Regions from separate parts of the Homo sapiens genome. Here region 1 is linked to region 2. Evidence: fine-mapped expression QTL. Tissue or cell type: gastroesophageal junction. Region 2 holds a variant in brackets; the other region holds the start of a gene. All regions are shown on one strand. Distances are between the middles of the regions.

Region 1 (4,600 bases), 590 kb before region 2:
GCTGATGACTCGCCAGCCATGCTGGAAGCCTCCCCCAGGTCCTGCCTGGTGGTGACTCTATCGGCCAAGGTTGCCATTAGGACCTGGCCTGTACACATGTGAGTTTACATGTGTGTGAGTTTACACACGCAAACCCAAGCCCACCCAGGTGCACGTGTGGAGCTGCCAGGGTAGGTGGTACATCCCCCCAGGAAGAGGAAGGCAGGTTGAACTTGGGCATGCTCAGACAGGTGGTGTCTCCAGGCGGGCGCACTGGGAGGCAAGGCTTATGGACACCAGAGTCCTGGGGGAGACTGGCATGCAGGGATGGCCAGAACCCCAACTCCCAAAAGTCAGGCTGAGAGTTCCTTTCCTGCCACTCCACCACCAGCCTGAGCTCAGCAGAACTGCCTATTCACTGCCACTGCCCAGGGGCCACCCTCCTATACAGGAGGCATGAGAAGGGGGCTCTGACTTCCCTGTTGCTCTGCTGAAGGAGTATCGCCTTGTTGGGGGTACTGAACGGAACAGAGACAAGGTCTGTTGCTGTGGGGACAGGAGGGGTCTTCCTGAGAAAGCACGAAGAGAATGTGGGCAGAGGCTGGGGGCTGAGGCCCGGACAGGGTTAACTGGAGGTGGCCTGAGAGTGCCCACTAATCCTACCAGAGTCTGGTGACAGGCACGCACATGGGGCAACAGCCAACACAGAGCCCCCTGGCCATACGGGGACCCTTTCCTGCCCACCTCAAGCTGGGCCCTCCCGCCTGCCAGGTGCACCTACCTTGGAAGGAGAGCCGAAGGCGTGGGGGGCTGGGGGCGGCACTCCCCAGCCCCACTGCCCAGAGCAGGGCCAGGCCCGGGATCACGGCGGCAGCCCCGGCCCGCCCCATCTCAGCAGCTCAGGGTGCTCAGGGTTCAGCGGGTGTGTGTGTGGAGGAGCCTTGAGCTGCCCTGGACTCTGCCCCAGGATCTGGAAGAGGAGTCAGCAGTGAGGGCGAGGGCGGGAGGCTAGGGGGGGAGTCCCCAGGGATCAGATTACAGCCCCTAGGGGAAAGAGGCTGGGGGGTCGCATTCCACTTCCGAACCCTCCCCTCCGAGGGTGCCCCGCCTGGCCACAATCACAGACACACCCACGCCACTGGGCACACCCTCAGGGTCACCCTGCACTGGCAAGCCCGCCTCACCACGTCACCCTTCCCAGTAATCTCCTCTCTTGTATACACACTCACAGACATTAATTCACAATGTGCCACCCACTTCATGCCAGCCTAGACCTGGGAGGAGGGATACTGGGAGACATAGACAAGGTCCCCATGTGAAAGGGGACAGAGTGCCAACAAGGAATCAGATGGATGCAGAGGGTGCCAAGTGCAATGAGCAAAACAAGCCAGTCAAAAGAGTGAGAGTGACAGGAGGGGGTCAGGCCTCTGGAGGTGGCAGTGTCCCCACAGTCCCGCAGAAAAACACAGAGACACTTTTGAGGCTGGAGCCAAGGGTGTGGGTGCCTGTGAATGTGTTTCCGAGTGTCCCCTTGTGATGTGCGCATGTGTGTAGTGTGTATGTGCATGTGTGTGCACATCTATGTGCAAATATATAGTGTGTCATATTGCACATGTGTGGATATGGGTTGGTGTGCACACACATGTGGCACTGTGCAATCCATGCAGTACATATGTGTGATATGTGCATATTTTGCACACAGATGTGTTGCACATTTGTGCATGTGCAAACGTGTGCACCCATAAGAATAGACATGTCTCTGGGCATGCAAGTGAGCAAATCCAACTGCAGCATCAATCACTCCATTCCTCAGAGGGAGAAGTGCTACCCAGGAGACCCAAGACCTGGGCAGAAGCCTCAGCCTCTGACTTGGGGACTGCTCCCAACCCAGCTGAAGCAGCCTCTGCATTTGAGCTTGAGGGCTCTCTCTCCACACCCCTGAGGAATCAAAGAGGGGCAAGGTGAGGCAGCCCTTCATTTGCACCCCAGCCTCCTGGCCTCGCTGAGCTGGCCTTCCCTCTCAACGCCTCCACAGCCTCTCTGAGCCTCTCCCTTCACTTCTCTCACCCCTTGAGTTCTTCCCCATCTTTGAGCCCCTTCACTCTAGGAGCCAGACACCTCCCCCTGGCCCTCAGCTGGGGCAAAGACCTGGCTGCTATGCCCACCCTCCTTCCCAGGGGTCAGCTGGGCAGGTGCTGGACACAGGAGCCCAGGGAGTGGGACAAGGTTCCAGGTGGGATTAAGCAAGTGGAGCAGCTGCTGAGGCAGGTTCCAGGCCCCTCCACCCACACTCCTGCCCAGCTCCTGGCCCCATCCCAGGCCAGGACCCCCACCTCCCTCCTTCCCTCCGCTGACACTTGCCGCTGCCTCTTCTCAGGTTCTAGAGGTCTTCCAGGCCAACACTGGCTGCCTTCTCACACTCCACCGAGGACTTCCGCAGCAGCATCTCTCCACTCTGGCCCCTTCCCACCCTGGGGCCGCTGGGGACCCTCTGACGGCTCCTTTAAGAAGCAGCCCCCGCCCCCACCAGGCCAGCCACCGCCCCACGCACCGCCCGCCGTGCCGTAAAGTTTAGAGGGCGGATCGGGTGACCGGGCAGGCAGCCGGGACCAGCTGGAGACGGCAGCCAGGCGGGAGTGGAATGGGCACAAGGGAGGGGCTGGTAGGGACGACCCCTCCCATATTGGGCCTTAAAGCAGAAGGGTGCCCCAGGTGGCGGTCCCAGAAGCCAGGTGGCCAGCCAAGGCAAGGGAGGAAGAAACCCCAGCTCCAGGGGCTCAGCAGGCAAAGGGAATCACTGAGTGGGGGCACCACCCGTGGACTCCAATATCTCAACCTCTCCCTCCACAGGTGGGGAGCTGTGGGGAAAGATAATGGGGAGCTCAGCTGCCACCTCAGTTCCCAGGGACCGGCTGGGGTGGCCGGGCAGCTGGAGGTCAGGGGAGGGGCTCTCAACTGGAGGTCGGATGGGCCCTCAGGACCCAGTCCCCATCCTTCCTCAACACTTGGGCCACTTAGTACTTCAGTGGCCTGGCCAGCAGTGGCTTCTACCATGACAGCCAGATAGGGGAGGGAGAGGAGGGCAGGAGAGGGGCAGACGCAGGAGGAGCAGCAAATCTCACTTCTGCACCACAGGGCGGGGCCCATCTGGAGTCCGCCATCCTGGACAGGTAGCTTTGCATCTCTGCTGAGAGGTTGGGGGGCAGACCATGTGACCTCCCTTCCTCTGGCTTCTCTTTCTAGGTTGGAGGTGGGAGGAACAACCCCCACCAAACCCAGAGCCGAAAACTGAGGGAGTTTTACAGACAGGACGGAGCTCCTGCACCTCGGAGCCTCAGTTGGGAATGACCTGGGGTCTTGTCCTGAAGCTGAGTCTGGTGAACGTGCCCCATTTGTAACATGAGGGGTACTTCTCTGGAGGGACTGTATGTTGACAGTGGCAGAGTGGAGCCCTGAAGTCCACCTGAGTGAATATACCAGGGCTTGAGAATGGGCTTTGATCCTTCCATCCCCGCAAAAGGCATTTTCCTACCACCTCCCAAGGCTGATGGGGCAGTGTGGGCATTTCAAGTGTTGCAGTTCTGTTGCCCAGCCCTGGATGCCTCCAGCCAAGCAAGGACAGAGGTGGGGGGCACATCTCCAAGTCCCCTGGAAGTGGAAGTGGGGCTATGCCCCTCCTTCCTGAGCCTGAGGACCTGGTATACCTGGCCTGGCCTGGCCAGCTGGCAGGTAAATAACAGGGGCCAGTGGGAGCCGCAGGGCCCTTCAGGAGGGCAAGTGGAAGGACAGATCCCTGCCTGGGCTCGTGGGCTTCCTGGATGTGGCCTTTTCCTACTCCAGGAGTAGCTGCCTCTAGCCTTAGAGGACCTGGGCAGGCTCTCCTGGCTCCATGCAAGCAGACAACATTCTTTGGCTGTTTACAGCTTTCCACCCAAGCAGCCAGGATCAGCAAGTGCCTCAGAGGCTCCCATCCACTCCCACTGTGCCCCCATAGGCCCTCACTGCCTTATGTTTTTCCAGGCCCAGGGGCCCTGTCTCTGTTTCATCACCCCGCACCTTCCTCCACCTGTGTTCACTCTGGGAAACGGTATCAGAAACCCCCCCGCCACCGCCATTATCTTTCCAATAGCCTGGGAGTCAACCCCCAGCCAAAAGGACTAGACTGTCTCTGTCCCCATTGAGTGCTGTGCCCTGTCCTCTGTCCTCTAGATGTGTACCCTCCCTTGAGTAGGAATGGAGGTCTCCAGGGATGGGAGGTCAAGTTGTCCCTGATTCCACATGGTCCCCTTTCTGTTCCTCAGCCCCAGGTCCAGTGTGCCAGGCCATGGGTAGGGGCCCCCATGGAGGTCAGCACTCCAGGAGCAAGGTCACTGCCTGTGGGTCACACTGGGGGCTGGAACTCCTCGAGGATTCTGGAATCAGGCAGCCTGAGCCTGAGTCTCAACAGAATGGGGCAAACCAGGCAAGGCAGCTGGGGTCCCTTTTCCTGCCTGTACTCCTACCCTGGACCTCTCTCTTTTGAGGGAGCTTCCATGGGCAGAGACCTGCCTGGGTCCTTGCTCTGGGGCTGCCTGTCAGTGGCATGGCCTACCACGGCCTTGGCTTTTCCTTCTGGAAAAAC
Region 2 (4,600 bases):
ATCTCCAGGGGCCCAAAATGCCTGTAAACAGGATCAAAGGGCAGGAGTGAGCAAGGGGTGGTAGCTCAAGAAGGGTCCCAGACTCCAGGGGGGACACAGGCTGTTGCTGCTGACCTGTCCAGGGGACACATTCTCAGGGACCCCCTCAAGCACAGAGATGTTGCCACTCTCGACATCCAGCACGCAGAGCACAGGGATGCTTTTGGAAACCATGTTTTCTCCCCAGTCTTCATAAAACACAAACTGATCCCCCTGAGAACACAAGATACTCAATGCCCAGCCTGTCTATAGGACCTGCTCTGCTTCCTAAAAGCTAGTGCCTCCCCAGGTCTGACAGGCACAGTATGGGAAGGGAGCACACTGAGCCCCAGGGCTGCCCTGCCGGGCCTTCGTGGATTGACCACGAGCACCTTGATGGCTTGGTCTGGCTTCTTCAGCCTGGCTATCTCATCATCGCTGGCACTGACGTCCAAGGCTTTGGTCTGAAAGAAGGACTCGGCCTTGGGGCGCTTCTTCTCTGCCACATACAACAAGTGTGTCTCCGAGTGCGACCAGGACAGGCAGCCAAAGCAGTCTGGGTGCAGGGAGGGCCAATCAGGGGGGGCCCAGGGCTACGGCTACCCCTCCTGTCCACCCTGCCTGCTCACCAGCCAGATGCCTCACCATCCTCATAAACAGGCCCATGTTTCTCCAGCGCTGACAGGTTGAAGCTCTTGAGCTTCCGGTTCTTCTCCCAGACCTGAGGACATCTGGGCATTAGGCTGTTTGCCCGCTAACAGAGCCTTATCTGTGGGGCAGAGCCTCTCTCTTGTCACCCACTACCTGGTCCCATGCAGACTCACCTCCAGGAACTGCTTCTCTTCCCCAGGGCCCGTGCCTCCAGCCTTGCGCAGCACAGCTTTCATGGTGCCTGAAGGAGACTCTCTGCTCAGCAGTCTGTGGACATGGGGTAGCACAGGTCAGGATTATCTTGCAATAACCCCTTCCTGCTCCCTACTGGGCACACCTCTTAGGAGAGATTCTTGAGGCTCTGGCCCCACACCAGCTTCTGGAGCACCTCTAGCCCCACCTTGCCTTTCCTCCCTGAGGCAGAGACTCTACTCTCTGCAACTCCCCAGGCCACCATGGGCTCTAGTCCAGGCTGAGTTTGGAGCAAGCTTCCAGTGCTTATCAGGCCATGTCACCAGAAACTGAATGAGCTCCCAAGGGGGCAAGAACCTGGCTGCTGGCCTCCCTTCTAGGCACATGGTGAGCATTCATAAAAGGCTTGCATTGCGGACGGCTGTGGCCTTGCCCACAAGCTTCCTCCCTCAAACTTACTCCCCCCGGGTCTCCACACTGTTGCCTGCAGGTCCTGCAAACACCACTGAGTCCCCGTCATGGAACACCAGGTATTGGCGGCAGAATCGAATGTTCTCCATGCGTTCCAGGTCCCTCTGGGTCCACTCTGTGAGGGGAGGCATGAGACTGCTCACCTTGTCTTGGCTACTCCTGGCTACTGCCCCCAGCCCCACCTGACCCAGGAAGGCCTAGATCTATCTTCCCCAATCTCTCAATCTGTCTCCAGACACTGACACCCTGGCTGCAGGCTGGACAACACTTGGCCACAACCCTAGTCCAGGCCTCCAGAGCCTGAGCTGACAGCCTCTTTGAGAGAACCCCCTAGTAACCCCAGCATCCACCCTGGAATCTTGAGGGCAGCCTGGCATGTGTATGGGATGGCGTGTTGGTGGAGAGCCCTACAAGGTCCACGCCCTGAGCCCAGGTTTGACTTCTACCCCTACGCCGTCATCTCGTGCACTCATGGCCGCCATTCGATAACGCCCCGCACGCCCCCTCCCCCCCTCCACACACCTGTGTGCAGGGACCTGTGGGAGTGTAACCTCCAAGTCCAGGCCGGCTCCCTATATACCCTTACGCACTGTCAAGCAGCGAGCCCTCCACACCCCCTTCCTTCCCACCCCAGTGCGCGACCCCGTCGCCAGCCAGTTCCCCTTCGCACACACACCAGTGTGCACCGTCCGGTATTGGCCGCCGTACTGCGTGGTGACCTCCGGGCCCAGGCAGGCGGCGCTCAGCGCGGGCTGGCGGCTAAGGCCCCGATACAGAGCCGCCGCCTCCTCGGGCTCGCTCAGCAGCACCTGCGCAGGGGACACACCAGGGTCAGGCCCGGCCCGGGCTGCAGGGACCACGGGGACCGCGGGCCGAGCCCTCACCTGACGTTCCATAGTCTCCTCTCTGCCGCCGGGGCGAGGCGGGGCGTGCTCGCGCCCGGAAGTGAGGCTTCCGGGGGCGGAGCCTGGGACGGCCCGGGCTGTCTCCGCCCCTGCCCTGCGGCAATCTGTGAGGGGCGGGGCCTTCGGCTAATGGGTGAGGACCGTTGGCAGGGGGCGGGCCTTGACGGTGAGAGGACCCGGCCTGGGAGCGAGAAGTCCTGGGTGGGTGAGAGCAGGGGTCTCGCCAGGGGCGGACTAGCCAAGTGGGGGGCGGGGCCGTGGGCTGAGTCCTGGGCCTCTTACCGAGGGGCGAGGCGTTGGATCTCGGAGGAGAGGGGGCGGCCCTGTGGAAGCGGAACCCGGGAGCCCGGCTTCGGGGAGGGTAGAAGGGCCTACGAGAGAAGGGGTTGAGGGGG[T/GT]GCTGCAAGGCGGAAGCAGCGCGGTCGGACGGGCATGGCCCAAGCACGCGAAGGGCGGGGCCCGAGGGGAATGGGACCAATGAGTCTTTGAGGATGAAGGGCAAGGCGGGCGGGTCCGGATTGGAGCCCTGCGAGGAATGTGGAGCCGGGAGCCTGTGAGCGTGAGCGTGAGCGTGAGCGTGAGCGTGAGCGTGAGGGTGAGGGTTGGGCGGGGCGGAGCCGGCCGCAGCGTGGATCTCCCGCGGCTCTGGGGCTGACTGTAGGGTTCCTTCGGGTCCACCACGAGGCCGACATTCACTACACAGTGCCAGGCCCTGCCCTGGAGGGAGTTCCACGCAGACGAAGAAGAGAAGGGCCAGGGTCCGGGCGGAGGGCGCGAAGCAAAGCCCTGGGGTGCGGGGCAGAGGGGCGGGTGCCAACTCTTAGGGTGCTGCCCGGACTTATCAGTCGCCAGGCCTGCCGCAAGAGCTATCTATCCCCGCAGCCTTTACCCAGCCTTCTCAGTGGCACCTTGTTGGGGACCGTGAGCTGGTGGGTCCCTGCCTTCCTCCCCAGGCCTCACCCTGAGCTCTTGGGTGTGAAAGGCCTGGTGGGCTCAGACTCCACCCAGGACCAGGGAGCTTCCTGTGGAAAAAACCTAGGCAGGCAGGTTCCCTGTGCACGTGGTACAGGATTGGCTGGGCTAAGGTGCCAACAGAGATCAGGAGAGGCTGGACAGTAAGGATGTTCCCTCCATATACCTGAGTCTGGCTGGTCTTCCACATTCAGGGCCCTGGCTCCCTGCTCCATGGCGTGCTTGTGATTGAGAGTCCACTTGTCTGGCCTGTAGCTTCCCCTTTCCCATCAGCCGCATCATTACTTACTCAAGATAACTAGTTAAGTAAAAAAAAAAAAAAAAAAAAAAAAAAAAGTCCCGGCCGGCCGGGCGCGGTGGCTCACGCCTGTAATCCCTGCACTTTGGAAGGCCGAGGCGGGCGGATCACGAGGTCAGGAGATCGAGACCATCCTGGCTAACACGGTGAAACCCTGTCTCTACTAAAAATACAAAAAATTAGCTGGGCATGGTGGCAGGCGCCTGTAGTCCCAGTTACTCGGGAGGCTGAGGCAGGAGAATGGTGTGAACCCGGGAGGCGGAGCTTGCAGTGAGCCGAGATCGCGCCACTGCACTCCATCCTGGGCGACAGCCAGAGTCCATCTTAAAAAAAAAAAAAAAAAAGTGCCAGGCGCGGTGGCTCACGCCTATAATCCTAGCACTTTGGGAGGCTGAGGCGGGTGGATCACCTGAGGCCAGGAGTTCGGGATCAGCTTGGCCAACATGGAGAAACCCTGTCTCTACTAAAAATACAAAAATTAGCCGGGCTGGGTGGCACGCGCCTGTAATCCCAGCTACTCGGGAGGCTGAGGCAGGAGAATCGCTTGAACCTGGGAAGTGGAGGTTGCAGTGAGCCGAGATCATGCCACTGCACTCCAGCCTGGGCAACAAGAGTGAAACTCCGTCTCAAGAAAAAAAAAAAAAAAGAGTCCCAACTTTCTGACGCCACTGCATTTGTCAGTATGTACAGGACTGTATCAAGGCCAGAAACAGGAGTAGAATGAGTGGCCCCAGCCACCAATTTGGGTGGAAAGATTGGAAAATAGGATGTTCATCAAGCATTGTTTATAATAGGAACACTGGGAACATAGTGCCTGTTCCTTAGATTGTGTGTGGTAGACTGGCTATGAACTAATGGTGTATCTCTCTGGAGGTTGAGCACTGGAAGACGAACATTTAAGTACCTGAAATAAACGTGGAAATAAACAGAAAGCTAGAAAACAGGATATATTGCACCTTCTGGCTTCTGTTTAAAATGAAGACTGGAACAACAAACAGGAAAGAAGGACACGCATCAAAATGTTAATTCTGGGGAGAGGGCCAGAGGTGAAGCTGGGATTCCTGTTTATCTGTGTTAAAAAAAAAAAAAAAAAAAA

What was found. PIP is the estimated chance that this variant, and not a neighbour inherited with it, causes the effect.
Region 1: SEMA3B-AS1 starts here. The variant in region 2 is fine-mapped to the expression of SEMA3B-AS1 in gastroesophageal junction (GTEx, PIP above 0.99). The same link has a PIP of 0.9 or more in prostate.

The regions. Positions count from the first base shown.
Region 1 is chr3:50,265,510-50,270,109 of GRCh38, reverse strand. It overlaps SEMA3B-AS1 (SEMA3B antisense RNA 1), which reads left to right and starts at 2,739. Exons shown (of 2, transcript NR_110702.1): 1 at 2,739-2,829; 2 at 3,223-3,469. It overlaps SEMA3B (semaphorin 3B), which reads right to left and starts at 963. Exons shown (of 17, transcript NM_001290060.2): 1 at 761-963. The coding sequence starts at 869.
Region 2 is chr3:49,672,030-49,676,629 of GRCh38, reverse strand. APEH (acylaminoacyl-peptide hydrolase) reads right to left here and starts at 2,279. Exons shown (of 22, transcript NM_001640.4): 1 at 2,217-2,279; 2 at 2,009-2,141; 3 at 1,321-1,447; 4 at 843-936; 5 at 664-739; 6 at 411-574; 7 at 115-252; 8 at 1-21. The coding sequence starts at 2,228. It also overlaps a transcript of BSN not described here. RefSeq lists a silencer at 1,985-2,594. The variant T/GT (reference allele first, on the strand shown) is at 2,633.